Linked DNA regions of Homo sapiens. The gene in region 4 interacts genetically with the main gene of each other region. Each region holds a gene or a part of one and is shown on either strand. Other genes may lie near its edges.

What was found.
Region 1: changes in CDC25B (region 4) and AMHR2 together harm fitness more than expected from each alone (negative genetic interaction), as found in Homo sapiens cells (one large-scale study listed by BioGRID).
Region 2: changes in CDC25B (region 4) and IGF1R together harm fitness less than expected from each alone (positive genetic interaction), as found in Homo sapiens cells (one large-scale study listed by BioGRID).
Region 3: changes in CDC25B (region 4) and PFKFB4 together harm fitness more than expected from each alone (negative genetic interaction), as found in Homo sapiens cells (one large-scale study listed by BioGRID).
Region 5: changes in CDC25B (region 4) and DDR2 together harm fitness more than expected from each alone (negative genetic interaction), as found in Homo sapiens cells (one large-scale study listed by BioGRID).

Annotation. Positions count from the first base shown.
Region 1 is NC_000012.12:53,422,642-53,426,773, reverse strand, and holds the start of AMHR2 (anti-Muellerian hormone type-2 receptor isoform 1 precursor), read right to left. Parts: upstream 2,920-4,132; 5' UTR 2,840-2,919; coding exon 2,791-2,839; intron 2,487-2,790; coding exon 2,304-2,486; intron 2,066-2,303; coding exon 1,874-2,065; intron 1,689-1,873; exon of another isoform or gene 1,618-1,688; coding exon of another isoform or gene 1,610-1,617; coding exon 1,532-1,609; intron 1,320-1,531; coding exon 1,201-1,319; intron 1,089-1,200; coding exon of another isoform or gene 1,086-1,088; coding exon 855-1,085; intron 1-854. UniProt on the Homo sapiens protein: On ligand binding, forms a receptor complex consisting of two type II and two type I transmembrane serine/threonine kinases.
Region 2 is NC_000015.10:98,707,476-98,711,153, reverse strand, and holds part of IGF1R (insulin-like growth factor 1 receptor isoform 1 precursor), read right to left. Parts: intron 3,593-3,678; coding exon 3,047-3,592; intron 1-3,046. UniProt on the Homo sapiens protein: Receptor tyrosine kinase which mediates actions of insulin-like growth factor 1 (IGF1). Binds IGF1 with high affinity and IGF2 and insulin (INS) with a lower affinity. The activated IGF1R is involved in cell growth and survival control.
Region 3 is NC_000003.12:48,539,799-48,543,476, reverse strand, and holds part of PFKFB4 (6-phosphofructo-2-kinase/fructose-2,6-bisphosphatase 4), read left to right. Parts: intron 1-3,678. UniProt on the Homo sapiens protein: Synthesis and degradation of fructose 2,6-bisphosphate.
Region 4 is NC_000020.11:3,802,638-3,806,315, forward strand, and holds the end of CDC25B (M-phase inducer phosphatase 2), read left to right. Parts: intron 1-92; exon of another isoform or gene 93-171; intron 172-272; coding exon 273-335; intron 336-470; coding exon 471-569; intron 570-766; coding exon 767-900; intron 901-1,931; coding exon 1,932-2,043; intron 2,044-2,183; coding exon 2,184-2,324; 3' UTR 2,325-3,478; downstream 3,479-3,678. UniProt on the Homo sapiens protein: Tyrosine protein phosphatase which functions as a dosage-dependent inducer of mitotic progression. Directly dephosphorylates CDK1 and stimulates its kinase activity.
Region 5 is NC_000001.11:162,785,054-162,787,952, reverse strand, and holds the end of DDR2 (discoidin domain-containing receptor 2 precursor), read right to left. Parts: 3' UTR 548-2,899; downstream 1-547. UniProt on the Homo sapiens protein: Tyrosine kinase involved in the regulation of tissues remodeling. It functions as a cell surface receptor for fibrillar collagen and regulates cell differentiation, remodeling of the extracellular matrix, cell migration and cell proliferation.

The DNA.
Region 1 (4,132 bases), on a different chromosome or scaffold from region 4:
GATGCTGAGGTTGCAGTGAGCCAAGCTTGTGCCACTGCACTCCAGCCTGGGCAACAGAGCAAGACTCCGTCCTCCCACCAAAATAAAATAAAAATATATAAACATGTATTGTTTATGTAATAAAAAAGATAAATAAAAATTATTATTTTGAGACAGGGTCTTACTCTGTCACCTAGGCTGGAGTGCAGTGGCACAATCTTGGCTCACTGCCAGCCTTGACCTCCCCAGGCTCAGGTGCTCCTTCCACTTCAGCCTCCCAAGTAGCTGGGACCACAGGCATGTGCCATCACACCCAGCCAATTTTTTGTTTTTTGTAGAGGTGGGGTTTCACGGTGTTGCCCAGGCTGTTCTTGAATTCCTGGGTTCAAGTGATCCTCACACCTTGGCCTCCCAAAGTGCTGGGATTACAGGCGTCTGCCACCGTGCCCAGCCTGTTACTATTTTTTCACATGGTCTCGCTCTGTCTCCCAGGCTGGAGTGCAGTGGGATGCTCACGGCTCACTGCAGCCTCAACCTCCTAAGCTCAAGCGATCTTTCCACCTCAGCCTCCTGAGTAGCTGGGACTACAGGTGTGCACTGCCATGCTGAGCTAATTTTTGTAATTTTGCAGTGATGGGGTTTCCTCATATTGCCTAGGCTGGTCTTGAGCTCCTGGGCTTAAGCGATCCACCCACCTTGGCCTCCCAAAGTCCTGGGATTACAGGTGTGGGCCACCTCGCCTGGCCATTTTTAATGTTTTAGAAAAGAGAAAATCGAAAGCAGAAGCAATCAACAGGGCCCAGCTGCCATGTAGCCCCCACCTCTATACATACACACAGGCACACACACACACATATACACTCCTTGGTGCTCACCTTGGGATGCAGTTCCAGTACCAGCAGGGGCCCAGAGAGCAGGCGGCCAGGACCCCCCCGGCTGGCAGTGATAAATCGGACAATGTGGTCGTGCTGTAGGCCTGGAAGTTCGTACAATGCTCTCTCAGCTTGGAACTGAGCCACAGACCTCGGTGGGAAGGCCTTGATGGCAACCAGTTTTCCTTGCAGCTGCCCGGCCCAAACCACTGCATGACCTCCTTCCCGGATTACCTGCTGGGGACACTGTGCTGAGTGTGGGCCTCTGAGCTATAACAGGGCCAGGATTCCTCCCCAGCACAACCTCCAGGAGTGCCCAGAGGAGCCCTTCTCTCCCTCCCTGGGGCACCTGGGAGAAACACAGCTCAGGCAGCTCCTGCAGCTCCACACTCCAGTCCCTGCCTGAGTCTGGCCTTGGCTCTGGCACTGGCTCACCTCGCACTCTGTAGTTCTTTCGCTGTAGCAGGGCTGGAACAGACAAGAGCCTTAGGGTCAGGGTGCAAATGCATAGGGACAGGAAAAGGGACTTCGTGGAAAGGGAGCTTTGTGAGAGGTCATGGGAGTCCGGGAATCAGGCTATAGAGATCCCAAGACCATGGGGTCAGGGGTGCCTGGAGAGGGGTCAGAGCTTTTGGGGCAATGTCTTGGGGTCACAAGGGAGGGATGGGGTGGATTAGTACCCAAGATGATGCTGCCCAGCAGCAGCAGGAGGAGGAGGAACAGCCCCAGCAGCACCAGTGCCATCCAGATGGACTCACCTGGACATCAAGGCAAGAATGCAGGCTGGAGAGCACTGACCCAAACCTGCTCTCTGCTCTTCCCCTCCTGAGAGCTTGCGTCTCAACCCACCCCCACCCTGGTCACAAGACCCCTTATCTCCCAGTCACCAGGGCAACCAACTTCCCAAGGCCAGGAGGAGGAAAGCGTGGGGCGGGAGTAGGGTGAGAACTGGCCCTGGTTCCACCTCTCATCCTAACCTGGGCCCCAGCCCCCATCAGGCTTCAGTACCCTTGGGTGGCTACCTGGGGCAGCCTGGGGACCCTGGGAGCCAGGAGTCCCAGGGCTCCCTGGAGGAGGCAGATGGCTGTAATTGGCATTGCAGAAGTCAGTGCCACAGGAGCAGGTGAAGAGAGTGGAGCCAGGGCTGGGGTGGGCTCGGGGACTTGGGTCACAGTGGAGGGACTCACAGCCTGGCTCATCACTGTCTCGGCATCCTGATGGGATGGGATTAGGGGAAGAGGAGAGAAAGGGGGGGCAAGGAAGAAAGCACAATGGGGTGTGGAAACAGAGGGTAAATCCCTTCTCTATCAGAGGCGTCCCTTCCAGCTCTCATGGGCTTTTCTTTCCCACCAGATGTTCTATTTCTCCCCTTCCCCCTTGGTTGCCACCCACACCCCAGGATGTGTCTGTCTCCCACCCTAGCCATCACCTGCCATATACTTTGCCATTCACCTTGCATTTCCACCTGTGCCCGGTCTTGGGTCAGGTTCCAGATCCCAAAGCAGCAGCGGCTGTAGAGGCAGCGGATAGCTCTGGGGAGCTCTGTGCCTGTATCTAGCAGCTCTCCCAGTGTCTTTGTGCTTCCCCGCACTCCAGGGGCCTCAAAGAACACACAGGTTCGCCTGTTTGGGGGTGCTGAGGCCCAGGGTGGGGAAAGGAAAAGATTCAAGGTGGGAGTGAATGCAGAGGCAAAAAACTGGCCAAAAGAATAGACAAAACATGTTCCACATCCCAGCGTCAGTATGGTAAAGCCACAGGAGGAAGCAGGGTCAGCAGAGGCCTGGAACCTGAGCCCTGCCATGGGGACACATGGCTCTATCCTTCACCCTTACTCACCCAGCCCACTCACCACTCTTCCAAAGGGGTGGCTCTTGCTTCAAGCGCCCCTTTCCCTTGCTGGATGGATGGAGAGACCCTTCCCCTCCCTGTAGACACTTACCTTCCACAGCTGTGGGAAGTAATGCCCAAAGCCCCAAAGACCCTAGCATCTTGCTGGAGGATGGCAGCAGCAGAAGGAGAAGAGCATAAGCCAGCACAGCTGCCCCTGGCCAAATCTTTCTTCAGATACAGGGCATCCTGGGGCTTCTGATCCCTCAGTCCCCAACTCCGCCCCCCTCATCCTATCCCAGCCTCTGTGGGGGAGAAGGCTGCTGTGGGGGAGAGGGTGGGTGTGGGGAAAGCAGGGAAAGAAAGGGAGGAGCAGAGAACCAATCTCATATCCTCTTCTCTTCTGCAACCTCCTCTTTGCTCTGCATAGTGAGAGGAGGGGAACTTGGAGGCCCAGCTGAGAACCCAGTGATGCCTAATTTCAAATCTTTGCCCTTCCCTGACCTTGGAAGAAGATGCTGGACTCTGTTGACTCTTCTCAGGAGGAAACCAATGTGAGGTCAAATGCTTAGAGCCATTCAGCTCTGCCCAAGATCCTTTCTAGCCTAAGATCTCTTTATATTCAGGGTTCATATCTGCAACTGCTTGGGCAGAGGAAGGCCTCACAGCCCATATTAGAGGTTACCTTGTTTTCCAACTTAAGAATCAGAAAGTATACAAAACTTACCTGAATTTTTAAAAAACACATTGAAAACAGTAACAATGGTAAATTTTGCTATGTGGATTTTTTTTTTTTTTTTTTTGAGACGGAGTCTCGCTCTTCTCCCCCAGGCTGGAGTGCAGTGGCACGATCGCAGCTCACTGCAACCTCCGCCTCCTGGGTTCAAGCTATTCTCCTGCCTCAGCCTCCTGAGTAGCTGGGATTACAGGCGCCTGCCACCACACCTGGCTAATTTTTGTATTTTTAGTAGAGACGGGGTTTCACCATGTCAGCCAGGCTAGTCTCGAACTCCTTACCTCAGGTGATTTGCCCGCCTCGGCCTCCCAAAGTGCTGGGATTATAGGCGTGAGCCACCATGCCTAGCCGTGGATTTTACTTAAAAAAAAAAAACACATTGGTTCACAGGCTGAACAAATACCCATTATTAAGGAGGTAACAAATTTCTTATCAAGCACCTACTATGTGCTGGGGCACAGCTAGGGCTATGCATTTTACAATCATCTCATCTAATTCTCCCCTGAAATATTTATTATTATTATTTTATTTATTTATTTTTTGAGACCGAGTGTCGCTCTGTCACCAGGCTAGAGTGCAGTGGTGCCATCTTGGCTCACTGCAACCTCTGACTCCCTGGTTCAAGCGATTCTCCTGCCTCAGCCTCCCGAGTAGCTGGGATTACAGGCACGCACCACCATGTCCAGCTAATTTTTGTATTTTTAGTAGAGACAGGGTT
Region 2 (3,678 bases), on a different chromosome or scaffold from region 4:
AAGGGTTCTGGCTGGAGAGGTACATGCGGGGCTATGAGCGCTGCAGTGACGACTCAGCCAAAAAGATGATGAGGGGAAGAACTCCTGGTGTTAAAAGAAATGCTCTAAAGCAGCTTACCAACACAGAATGCAAGCCACATCTGTAATTTTAAATTTTCAAGTAGCCACATTAAGAATTAAAAAGAGTCGGGCATGGTGGCTCACACCTGTAATCCTAACACTTTGGGAGGCTGAGGCGGGCGGATCATCTGAGGTCAGGAGTTTGAGACCAGCCTGGCCAACATGGTGGTGAAACCCCGTCTCCAGTTAAAATACAAAAATTAGACGGGCATGGTGGCACATGCTTGTAATTCCAGCTACTTGGGAGGCTGAGGCAAGAGAATCGCTTGAACCCAGGAGACGGAGGTTGCAGTGAGCCGAGATCGCGCCGCTGCACTCCAGCCTGGGTGATGAGAGCGAAACTCCGCCTCAAAAAAAAAAAAAAAGAATAAAAAGGAAACAGGCAGGTGAAATTTAAGAACACATTTTACTTAATCTAATATATCCAAAATGTTATATTTCAACATGTTATCAACATAGTAATTATTAATGAAATGGTGTACAGAGTTTTTGCTATACTATGTCTTGGAAATCTAGTGTATATTTTACACCTAAAGCAGTCCCAATTCGGACAAGCCACAGTTCAAGTACTCAATAAGCCACGTGGCTTACTCAATAAGCGGCTACCACACTGGACAATGCAGGTCTAAATGGAATCTACGCAAACCAAGAGGAAGTTCTGATTCAACTAGAAAATCTCCAAGAAATATGCCCATGCCTGAGTTTTCAGGACAAGGGGAAGGGAAGTCAATTTCCCGGAAAGCAGTTACCAATTTTATATAAGTACTCCATTGTGAAATCACAAGGAACATCAGCAGGGCTGGGATGGTCAAGGAGAAGGCTGCAGGGCGTGGCCTTGGGGAAGCAGGTGACCAACCAACAGGTGATATCAAGGCTCTGTCTGTCACCAGCAGAGCCCACCTTCTAACCATCGTTAACATTTTCACGGTGCTTTTCCTTCCTCCTTTTCATCTTCCAACAGCCCTATGAGGAAGGCAGGCTTTACCCCATTCCACATATGAAGAAACCAAGGCCCAGGCAATTTAAATAACTTGCTCATTTCTAGTCGCCACTCTTAGACTTGGACCCAGAATGCAGGCCTCACCCCTACCCCAGGGGTCTTCAATCAGTAGCTCATCAGAAACAGCCAAAAACCTATGGCAAGACCAAAGTAACTACCTACCTAGTTCGTGAACAACTCTCCACTTAATGACGTTTCATATGGCACCTCCCTTCTCTAAAGAGCTTATGAGTTTTCAAAACATCCTCATGCCCATATATGATCACCACTAAGGGATGTACTGGACTGCCCTAGAAATATCCTAAAAAAGCCCAACTACAGCCCAGAAGGGCTGGCCCATCCAAGGTCATTCCTGGCCCTCATCACCACATTCAACATCTCTTTTCTACTCCATGCTGCCTCCCTTGATAACACCTTTTACTTTTCAGATAAAATTTTTAAATGTCAAGGTTATTTAAAAAATATATTTTGTTGTTTTCTCAAACCAGTGGGTAACTTAATGATAGGGCAGTTTTAATCAACCACACAAGTGACTTTAGCATAAGATCTCCCTCCAACTCCAGCCAACCTTAAAGTGGCCTGACTGCATTCTCAGAGCTCTACAAGGTACTGGCTGCAGCCAGTGGGACCCCTGCCCTCACTAATCAATGTTCACATACGCACTGATCCAATTCTGCAGAATAGAAAAGTGCGTGGCAGATCAGGGTACACAGATCCTTTTCCTGCCTCAGGACTGGTTGAACGGGAACTGAAGGGCTACCTGGGAGGTCTGTCCTTTATTTACTTTACACACTTCACCCCTGTGGGGTCTCGCCTTTTATTTATTTTAGGCAAGTCTAACAATTTGGGGTTTCTTGGTTCTTCATAACTAGAGAACATGGGTTCCTTACATCTTTAACTGGGCCAACACTTAAATAATAGCTATTTATAGCTAACACACTGACTTCAAACCAGTGAGGAAAAGCTTCCTAGCCAATATACATAACTATTGCTGAATGCAATAAGGTGAAGGCTCAGAGTCACATTTTAATACCAAACAGCCTGGTTCTTAAGGAACTGATCACATGAAGGCAAGAGCTCAGTTATTCTCAAGGGAAAATAAGCATATTGCAGATAAATATACAAGAAGCTTCAAAATACCACCATCTGACCCCCAGAACAGTAAATACTTTCCAAAGTTCCTTCACTCGTGAAATCTTAAGATTTTCACAACTGTTCAGTAAACAGGTATAAAAGAACGAAAACAGAATCCCAGAGGTTTAAAAATGCACCCTGCTACACAGCTACCTGCAAGTACAGCCTGAACCTGGGACTTGCAGAAATGGGTCCAGAGGTCTCCCACCTGGGCCAGGTGCTCTGTCATAACCAGGACACCTGAGTATCATAACATCATCACTAGGACCTAAGGACCACTTTCACAGGATATGAGTTAGTGCTTTACCTTCCCTTTATTTAACCATATTCCAAGTCCATTCAAACTAAGGAAGTCCTGCAGAACAAAAAATATCACTTCGCACAAAGGATGAAAGAGCTGACACATAAGCAGCCCCCAGCTGCCAAGGCTCAGGGACTTCCAAGCACACCAGGTCACCTTTCTCATCAGGAATTCAAAGCTGAAGGTCAGCAAGTGTCTAGCCCAGGAGTGTGCTGGATTATTTCTAACATGTGATTTGAACAGTCTTGACAGCAGCCATGATGGCCTCCAGCCACGCCACAGTCCCGCAATCCAAGAGTCCCAGATGCAAAGGAAAGCCAACCAAGACCCCCACTGGGAACCACTTCCGCACAGCAGGCATGCCACGTCCTAAATGCAACACGACTGCACCCTGCCCAGCGGAACTCGTGCACTCAGAAGAGAAGGGAGGTCAAGGAGGAGGAGAGGAGAGAGAGAGGCAGAGAGAAAGCAGCAGTCAGCATCATTCTTACTTTTCTGGCAGCGGTTTGTGGTCCAGCAGCGGTAGTTGTACTCATTGTTGATGGTGGTCTTCTCACACATCGGCTTCTCCTCCATGGTCCCTGGACACAGGTCCCCACATTCCTTTGGGGGCTTATTCCCCACAATGTAGTTATTGGACACCGCATCCAGGATCAGGGACCAGTCCACAGTGGAGAGGTAACAGAGGTCAGCATTTTTCTCAATCCTGATGGCCCCCCGAGTAATGTTCCTCAGGTTGTAAAGCCCAATATCCTTGAGATTGGTCATCTCGAAGATGACCAGGGCGTAGTTGTAGAAGAGTTTCCAGCCGCGGATGACCGTGAGGTTGGGGAAGAGGTCTCCGAGGCTCTCGAGGCCAGCCACTCGGAACAGCAGCAAGTACTCGGTAATGACCGTGAGCTTGGGGAAGCGGTAGCTGCGGTAGTCCTCGGCCTTGGAGATGAGCAGGATGTGGAGGTAGCCCTCGATCACCGTGCAGTTCTCCAGGCGCTTCAGCTGCTGATAGTCGTTGCGGATGTCGATGCCTGGCCCGCAGACTGAAGGGAGACAAGAGGGTAAACGTCTCAGTTAGAAGGAAATAATTTTTAAACTATTTTCCAAACAATAATACAGTTGGTTTTCA
Region 3 (3,678 bases), on a different chromosome or scaffold from region 4:
GCCCCAGCTGCTCTGGGTGCCAGCCCTTGGGAGGAAGTCTGCAACAGCTATGCAGGAGGAAGCCAGAGACTGGATATGGGCCAGGAGTTTCCCTCTGGGCATGTGGTGGCCGCATTTGACCCTGCAGGACTTCCCTCTGGATGCTTGTATTCTTGGCCACCCCAGAAGTTACAGGTATCAGGTTGCCTAAGTCTTTAGTAAATGTGATTTCTCCTGGTGTGGGGAGAATCCTGCCCAGCATTACTGGTTGTTGTAGGAACCCACTGAATCCTGGATTAAGGGGATTCCACCTGTGTGTTGGCCCTTCTAGTCAGACGGAAGAGCAGAACAGGGCTAAACTGGGGTGTCTGTGGGAAACGGCTCTACCCCAGCCTTATATAGTCAAACACAGGGGCTGTTCTTTCCCTTCCTTCTTCTTCCTGGAGTCATGCCTTCTGGAGTTCTCTGTCCCCAGCTACAATCTGTGCCTGTAGCACAGCCATTGCCCTTCTCTCTCCTGGGTTGAATGTTCTGCCTGTGGATCCCACATCATCCTCTCTTTGACTTACTGATTTGTTTCATTGAAGCACATCCTCCAGTAACTTCCTGAGAAAGGTGCTTGGGGAGGTAAATTGTGTGAGACCTTGCACATCTGAAATGTCTTTTTTTAATCCTCACATTTGATGGTTGGGTATAGAATTTCTAGGTGGAAAGTGCTTTTCCCTTAGAACTTCTACAACATCACTCTGATGTCTTATGGCTTCTAGTGTGGCTGTGGAGAAGTCTCATGTCATTCTGATTTGCTGATCTTCCTAAAAGCTTCATCTCTTAGAGGGAGCTGAGAGTTTCTCATGCCCCTTCCGCTTGGGAGGCCTTTAGGGTCTTCAAGGTGATGTGGTTTGTGGTGGGTCTTCTCTCCACCATACATGGTCCTAGGGGGCCCCTTTTCATCATAACACTCTTGTTCTCCAGGTCAGGGAAATTGTCATGTATTATTTCTTTGACAAATCACCTCTGCCCCTTTCTGGCAACTCACTCCATCCCTACTCCCATTTTCTGAGCTGCTTTTTCTAGAACTTCTGGTGGCTACATGCTAGCTTGATTCTGAGATTCTGATTTTATCTTTTTTCTCTTAATTTTCTTTCTTTCTTTTTTTTTTTTTTTGAGATGGAGTCTCGCTCTGTCACCCAGGCTGGAGTGCAGTGGCGTGATCTCGGCTCACTACAAGCTCCTCCTCCTGGGTTCACGCCACTCTCCTGCCTCAGCGTCCTGAGTAGCTGGGACTACAAGCCCCCGCCACTGTGCCCGGCTAATTTTTTGTATTTTTAGTAGAGATGGGGTTTCACCATGGTCTCGATCTCCTGACCTCGTGATCCGCCTGCCTCTGCCTCCCACAGTGCTGGGATTACAGGCGTGAGCCACCACGCCCAGCCTTTCTCTTTATTTTCTCTGTTTTTTTTGGTTGTTTGTTTTGAGAAAGACTTCTTCAACATTATCTTACAAGTATATGAGTGTTGTTGTTTTTTATTTCCTTGAGACATGGTCCTGCTCTGTTGCCCAGGCTGGAGTGTAGTGTCTCAATCATAGCTCACTGCAGCCTGTCTCCTAGGCTTAAGTGATCCTCACACCTCAGCCTCCTGAGTAGCTGGGACTACAGGCACGTGCCACCATGCTTGGCTAATTCTTGTATTTTTCACAGAGACAGGGTTTCACCTTGTTGAGCAGGCTTGTCTCAAGCTCCTGGCCTCAAGCAATTTGCCTGCCCCAGCCTCCGAAAGTGTTAGGATTACAGGCATAAGCCACTGCACCCGGCCCAAATTTCTTTTTTTGTTTGTTTGTTTGATTTAGTTTCTGTTTTTCTTGTTAAAGGTTTTGCTGGAGTGTCCAGTGAGCCCTGGCTGGATGCCCTTTTTAAAAAAGTGATGCTGGGCTGACATGGTGGCTCATGCCTGTAATCCCAGCACTTTGGGAGTCTGAGGCAGGAGGACTGCTTGAGCCCAAGAGTTTGAGACCAGCTTACATAGCGAGACTCTGTGTCTACAGAAAAATTTTTAAATTAGCCAGGTGTGGGCCAGGTGCGGTGGCTCACACCTGTAATCCCAGCACTTTGGGAGGCTGAGGCGGGTGGATCACGAGGTCAGGAGATCAAGACCATCCTGGCTAATATAGTGAAACTCCATCTCTACTAAAAAAATACAAAAAATTAGCTGGGCGTTGTGGCAGGCGCTTGTAGTCCCAGCTACTCGGGAGGCTGAGGCAGGGGAATGGCCTGAACCCAGGAGGCAGATGGGAGACTGAGGCAGGAGAATGGCGTGAACCTGGGAGACAGAGCTTGCAGCGAGCTGAGATCGCGCCACTGCACTCCAGCCTGGGTGACAGAGCAAGACTCCGTCTCAAAAAAAAAAAAAAAATTAGCCAGATGTGGTTGGGCACAGTGGCTCACCCCTGTAATCCCAGCACTTTGGGAGGCCAAGGCTGGCAGATCATGAGGTCAGGAGTTCGAGACCAGCCTGCCCAACATGGTGAAACCTCGTCTCTACTAAAAATACAAAAATTAGCCAGGCGTGGTGGCACAAGTAGCTGTAATCCCAGCTACTCAGGAGGCTGAGGCAGGAGAATCGCTTGAACCCAGTAGGCGGAGGTTGCAGTGAGCCGAGATCACGCCACTGCACTGCAGCCTGGGCGACAGAGCAAGACTCTGTCTCAAAAAAAAAAAAAAAATTAGCCAGGTATGGTGGTACATGCCTGTAATCCCAGCTACTTGGGAGGCTGAGGCGAAAGAATAACTTAAGCCCAGGAGGTTGAGGCTGCAGTGAGCTATGATTGCTCCACTACGCTCCAGCCTGGGCGACAGAGTGAGACCCTGTCTCAAAAAAATTTTTTTTAAATAAAAACAAAAAAATGATGCTGTAACCGAGGTGTGGTGCACACTTGTAGTCCCAGCTACTCAGGAGGCTACTCAGAGGATGCTTGTGCAGGCCCCAGGTACTTCTCAAAGAGCTCCAGATGGGTCAGTGCCTGGCTGGATGGGGTTGGGAAGGGGGCCTGGGCCTCCAGCTCTTCTTTATCAGCCAGCTAGTCCTCCCATTTCGTCCCCACCTTTGTCCCTTTTCTTAGCAATGCCACTGCACCCTCTGGAGTGCTCTGGTCCTGCACAGGTGGTGTGCTCTGGTTGGCCAGCACCTGTGTTTGGTTTCCTACATGACTCTGAGTCCGTCACCGTGGATCTCTCTGACAGAATTGTGTTGATGTCTCCATCTCCTGTTGTCTCCTTTTTCTCCTGTCATCTCTTTTTCTCTTTATCCTTCTGTTCCCATTTTACTGGGGTGTCAGGATGGAGTAGAAATAAACATAGGTTCAGTTTACTAGGTTTAACTGGTTTCACTGCAATTCCTGTTGGTCAAACACAAACTGAGTGCCCACTGTGTGCAGAGCAGCACTGAGTAGGTTCTTCTGTGCCACGGGTCTGCTCCCCTGCTGGGAGCACAGGCATCCTCTCCTTCTAACTTCCTTGGGGCATTCTCTCCAAGGAAGGGGAGGGCCAGCCCAGCCGTTGCAAGTCTGGAGGAGACTGGCCAGGCAGGTGGACCTGGCAGCAGCTGGTCCTTATGAGAAATCCAGTCCCCAGAGAGCCTGTGCTGCGGCCCTCACTGCCCACTTCAGGGCCCACTCTGGCCCCTTCCTTCCCCAGGGCCAGAG
Region 4 (3,678 bases):
TGCCTCACCTTCGGGCTTGGCAGAGGGTAGGGAGCAGAGTGTGGAGTTCATCTCTTCCACTTCCCTTTTTCATTTCTCTTTCCCCTTGGAAGGTTGTTCCCTGGGTGTCAGACCCAAGAGGTGCCTCTCAGTTGCCATGGGAACCAGAACTGAATTTGAAGGCCAAAGCAGGTGTGGCCTCTGATTTTGGGAATGAAACTTCATTCTTTGAGGCTCCTGGTCTTACCAATTTAACTTTCTCCCCTCTCCCTCATCCCTTCCGTTCCCTTCAGGCCTTCCTCCTACAGACAGTAGACGGAAAGCACCAAGACCTCAAGTACATCTCACCAGAAACGGTAAACAGCGTTGCGTCATTTTCTAGGCAGATTTGGGACTGTAGCTCCATTGTTGACCTTCCCTGGGGACAGGCTAGGGCCACCTGCCAGCTGCCAGCCTGACCTGCCGGAACCAACCCCCATGACCTCCTACAGATGGTGGCCCTATTGACGGGCAAGTTCAGCAACATCGTGGATAAGTTTGTGATTGTAGACTGCAGATACCCCTATGAATATGAAGGCGGGCACATCAAGGTAAGATGGGGCAATGGGGAGAGGCCCTGAAGATCCCACCTGGTTTAGGTCCTTGCTTTGCCAAGAGGGTGAATGGGTGGAGGACGGGTGCCCCCTCTCATGGGGAGGGTTCCTACTAAGAGAAGGACAGCGACTGCACGGGGAGGGCCCTGACTCCTGGACCCGGGGCTGTGCCTGACCTCTGGCTCCTCTGACAGACTGCGGTGAACTTGCCCCTGGAACGCGACGCCGAGAGCTTCCTACTGAAGAGCCCCATCGCGCCCTGTAGCCTGGACAAGAGAGTCATCCTCATTTTCCACTGTGAATTCTCATCTGAGCGTGGGCCCCGCATGTGAGTCCCAGCTCCGCCCAGCCAGCTAGTGTCTGCCCTGGCCTTCCCTGCCCAGGCTCACAGGTGCTGGCACCATTGAGATGGCCAGGGGTGCAAGTCCAGGTCCTCCTCTGTCCCATCTGATGGCCTAGAGCTGACCTCAGCCCCACTTCACTGTGCATGGTACCCGCCTCCCATCTCCCTCACTGTCCTGCCTATCAAGCCTCATGTCCACCCCACATCCATTACTGCCACCCTCAGAAAATTTAGTTCCAAGTCTCTAGCGGTGTCTTTTCTCGAAATCTAAGGGCCGCGTGTCAGTCCCCAGTACACGGACCCTCCCCATGTTCAGTGCTGTTAGGTCTCCATTAGAACCTCTTCCATTGGCATCCACAGCACCTGGGCCTCCCTGGCTGAGCTCCTTCTGTCGCTATTCCTGTTCTGCCTGGCCATCTGTCCTCCCACCCCTGCCTCCTCCTGGGTTGCCACTGGTCCATATGACTGCTAGTGGCTCCCCAGCCTGGCCTCACCCATGTGGTGGGAATCTGCACCCAGACGCCCCTTACAGAGTCGCATCCCTGCGGCCCTCCCAACTTCTCCAGGCATCCCAGCATATGGCACCCACCTCCACCTGGGCACCGGGCCTGGGCACTGGCTTCAGTCTTGGGTCCTCCTCCTCCCTTCTCCCCACCACTGATCCTCACCAGGTCTTGTCCAGGAGTGGCCCGAATGGATCCCTTGAATTTGGCCCACTTGTCTCCTCTCCTGCTTCTCCTTTCCTGGTCCAGGCACAGATATCTCTAACAAAGATTGTGCAACTGCCTTCTAGAAACGGAGAGTTCATCCCCTTGATTTTACCTCCTTCCTTCCGCCTCCCCACCCTCTTCTGTAGCCAGAGTGACCTAAAAGTGTTCTTGTGGTTACATTCCTGTGCTCTAAAGCTTTCTGTGGCTCCCCAAGGCCCTCAAAGGAGGGGACGTGGGGGATAGGTCCCATGATGTACAAGCCACTGCATGCCCCACTCTGACCACACCCTGCCCATGACGCCCCAGGTGCCGTTTCATCAGGGAACGAGACCGTGCTGTCAACGACTACCCCAGCCTCTACTACCCTGAGATGTATATCCTGAAAGGCGGCTACAAGGAGTTCTTCCCTCAGCACCCGGTAGCGTGGGTGGGGAAGGCCACAGTCTCTGTGTGAGGGTTGGCTTGGCCAGGCTGGAGCCATGGGATGGGGGGTGGGAGGGTTGGGTCCCTGCCAAACTTACCCATTCCACTGCATTGACCCCTCCTGTCCTGCCCTAGAACTTCTGTGAACCCCAGGACTACCGGCCCATGAACCACGAGGCCTTCAAGGATGAGCTAAAGACCTTCCGCCTCAAGACTCGCAGCTGGGCTGGGGAGCGGAGCCGGCGGGAGCTCTGTAGCCGGCTGCAGGACCAGTGAGGGGCCTGCGCCAGTCCTGCTACCTCCCTTGCCTTTCGAGGCCTGAAGCCAGCTGCCCTATGGGCCTGCCGGGCTGAGGGCCTGCTGGAGGCCTCAGGTGCTGTCCATGGGAAAGATGGTGTGGGTGTCCTGCCTGTCTGCCCCAGCCCAGATTCCCCTGTGTCATCCCATCATTTTCCATATCCTGGTGCCCCCCACCCCTGGAAGAGCCCAGTCTGTTGAGTTAGTTAAGTTGGGTTAATACCAGCTTAAAGGCAGTATTTTGTGTCCTCCAGGAGCTTCTTGTTTCCTTGTTAGGGTTAACCCTTCATCTTCCTGTGTCCTGAAACGCTCCTTTGTGTGTGTGTCAGCTGAGGCTGGGGGAGAGCCGTGGTCCCTGAGGATGGGTCAGAGCTAAACTCCTTCCTGGCCTGAGAGTCAGCTCTCTGCCCTGTGTACTTCCCGGGCCAGGGCTGCCCCTAATCTCTGTAGGAACCGTGGTATGTCTGCCATGTTGCCCCTTTCTCTTTTCCCCTTTCCTGTCCCACCATACGAGCACCTCCAGCCTGAACAGAAGCTCTTACTCTTTCCTATTTCAGTGTTACCTGTGTGCTTGGTCTGTTTGACTTTACGCCCATCTCAGGACACTTCCGTAGACTGTTTAGGTTCCCCTGTCAAATATCAGTTACCCACTCGGTCCCAGTTTTGTTGCCCCAGAAAGGGATGTTATTATCCTTGGGGGCTCCCAGGGCAAGGGTTAAGGCCTGAATCATGAGCCTGCTGGAAGCCCAGCCCCTACTGCTGTGAACCCTGGGGCCTGACTGCTCAGAACTTGCTGCTGTCTTGTTGCGGATGGATGGAAGGTTGGATGGATGGGTGGATGGCCGTGGATGGCCGTGGATGCGCAGTGCCTTGCATACCCAAACCAGGTGGGAGCGTTTTGTTGAGCATGACAGCCTGCAGCAGGAATATATGTGTGCCTATTTGTGTGGACAAAAATATTTACACTTAGGGTTTGGAGCTATTCAAGAGGAAATGTCACAGAAGCAGCTAAACCAAGGACTGAGCACCCTCTGGATTCTGAATCTCAAGATGGGGGCAGGGCTGTGCTTGAAGGCCCTGCTGAGTCATCTGTTAGGGCCTTGGTTCAATAAAGCACTGAGCAAGTTGAGAAACCAGCATTGTGTCCTGTGGGGCCCTGGGCAAGACCCCAGAAGCCCGCCAATGGCGGGATTGGGGTAGGAGACAGGGTCAGCAAAGGCAGGAAGAGTTGCTGGAGAGGTGCCCTCATGCTCTTGTCCCTTCTTCTCCCAATGTCTTCCATCTCTTGGGTGACACTCCTGCCAGGACTTTGGATTCAACCCCTCCTTCCCCT
Region 5 (2,899 bases), on a different chromosome or scaffold from region 4:
GGCCTCCCAAAGTGTTGGGATTACCGGCATGAGCCACCGCGCCCGGCCAATAAAATTTCTTTATCATGGGGGTGGAACTCAGCTCCTACGCTTATCCCACTTTCAACTGTTCTAAAGAGACCACAATTTAACAACATTTTCTGAAAGTCATGGAGTAAAATTAAGCCTAATTGTGAGAGTCTAGACCCAAAGACTCATTTTAAAATGTTCTAGAGCTCAGAGGTGATAAGGAATAAGAAGAAGACCTGGTTGTGTGGCTGTCCCATAAAAAAATCATTTCTATAAAGAAGGGAGAGGGCCTGGGCTGTGGAGGCTCAGCATTACCGCAGTCTCGGGATGACCGCCAGCCTAAGACAGACTGAATTAAGTGAAGTCCAGACAGCTTCAGAGCAAGACCGTCTGTCTCTCCTTTCCCCAAGATTTTCATTCAAGCCAAGTGATGAAACTGCTCTCTTCTTCCTTTTTCTGCACTAAAGTTGCTGCTTTCAAGGTGTTATGACTTTTGAAAGATGGGCTGAACTGCTAGAGGTGCTCAGAGAGACTAGAATAGAGTTCAAAATAGATGCCATTTAATTTTATATTTTACAAATATTTTATCACTCATAGGACACAGCTTGATAACCATCATAATATGTTTTTATTGATGAGTGAATGGATAGGTGTGTTTTTTTTAATCATCATAAGTTTATGTTTTGCATGGGCTCATTCTGTTCTCCTGGAAATCAGAAGAACAATAGGGTACACAATGATCCCATCTATCCCTGCCAAACCTTGGCCCTGTGATTTATCTACCATACCCCATGCTGAAAAATGTGCTCAGAAAACTCACATATTCTGAGAAATATTCTCAGAAAACTAAAAGTATAAACTTATTCTCAGAGACCAGGTAAGAAATGGGTTGTTTGGGGTCGTTTCATTCTAATCTCTAGTATAATGACTGAGTCTAAATTCTGGTTTTCATAGTTTTTTTTGGTTTGTGCATGTGCAGGTAGTCTGAGACAGACTATATTTGGATTTAAAAAGGATTTCTGTGTATCAAACAAGACAAGTCTGTAACCATAACGATAAGGGATCACCAGTTAATTCTAGACTGGATTCCCCAGAACTGGACTAATTAATGTGAGGACGTAAAATCCCAGTGTCTCGTATGTTTGGATATGTCAGAGACCAAGATGCTTTCTTCCCAATAAACAGTCAACTCATATGTTAGAGGTCTATTTAAATAATCCTTTGCTGGAAAGCCCCACAAACAGGTGTCCATACCACATACACCCCAGCTCTGGGCCCATGCCCCATCACTTCCCCAGGAATGAAAGACTATAAAGAGCAAAGGTTACAAAGCCCAGAACTGGCACTGTTTATACAGAAAGGGAGATCCATCAGTAGCATGACTCTTTAATCATTGTTATTTACAATTTATCATCTGACAGACTTACAGAGAATAAATAAAGAAAAGAAAATATACAATTGGTATCACGTTTCTTTTTCTAATACAGAGAAATTTTACATATTCTATTTGGAACGTCTATGATAGTTTTAAGCAGAAATTAAATCCATTTGCCCTTTACCCCTTGACAAGACACATCATCTTCCAAAGCCTGCAGAAGGGGGCCCAGATGTTTCCTCATCACAGGAAGAGTGCACCACATCGCTGCAGAAACTCAGTCCTCAGAAAAAGTTACCAGGCAACAAGGTAGAAGAATAGGATATCATGAATAATAAAGGACATATAATGGATAGGCTAGATTACAGACTCTTGGTGTGTTTGCAGGAAGCCAGCTTTCAATTGTGTCCAAGCCTGTTTTCAAGAAAACAGTTTTTCACTGAAAGTGATTACCTTATCCCATTGTGCTTCCCTTGAGTCTCTGCAAATTCTTCCTTGACATGTTCATTGTGATTGTGGATGAGCACAGGCTAGCTTGGGACTCAGATTATTTTCCTGCAAGGCACCTGACACTGTTGCATGTTGTTGACAAGGTGTCTGCAGGAGAAACTAGATAGCTTGTTTCAAATAGGCTGGGTATGAGGCCAGAGTCTGGTCTCTCCTTTTGATTCGGTGTCCTGTGGAGAACTACCTTTCATTGCTGTCTAAATGCCTCAAAAAATTAAGCAGTTCTATAGATCAATTTCTCCATCAAAAAGTATACAAACAGAGAATGCACTTCACCAGGAACAAGTCTGAGTAATTTTTTTCTCTTTCCTCACTTGAAAATAAACTCTCCATGTTACAAGCAAAACAATTCTCCCTACATTCACTCTAGTTAACTGGATGAGAAGTTTTTGTTTCTATCTTATGTTCATTCAAAAAAACAACATTCAGCAAATATTTATCAAGTGCTCACAATGACCTAGAAACTTAGTAAGACACACATTGTTATAATCTTGACCCCTTAAATAGGGGACTTAAAAATGTCAATCATAAAACTCAAAACTGTAATCCACAAAACTGGAGTTTCAACTTCTCCCCAGGTTGCCGCTGTGTTTGCAATTAATTTGGTCTAATGTGGTTGTTATTCCATTTAATAACGGCTATTTAGGCAAATAAAACCTCTCTACCACTCTGAAAATAGTATTTTATCAAACATTAGGAGTCTATACCATTGTATTCTATTCTCTCCACAAGCTATTTCCAGTGCCATTAACTAAGTGCCAACTAACTCTTGACTGAAATACTGGTTTACTCTAAACTCCTTATTTTGTCCCCAGTGCTAATCCTACTCACGTAGAAGCAGCAGGAAGCATCTAGAATATCCTGCTACCTGGTTTTCTAGACAACAAGCTATGAACAGGTCTTACTGTGTTTTGTGTTGCCTAATCTTTCTAAGTTTGTCTTGGATTGTTTCAGATGCCAAACAGCCAAACAAATCAGAAAATTTAGAAGCAGTGTAGGCAGGGTATT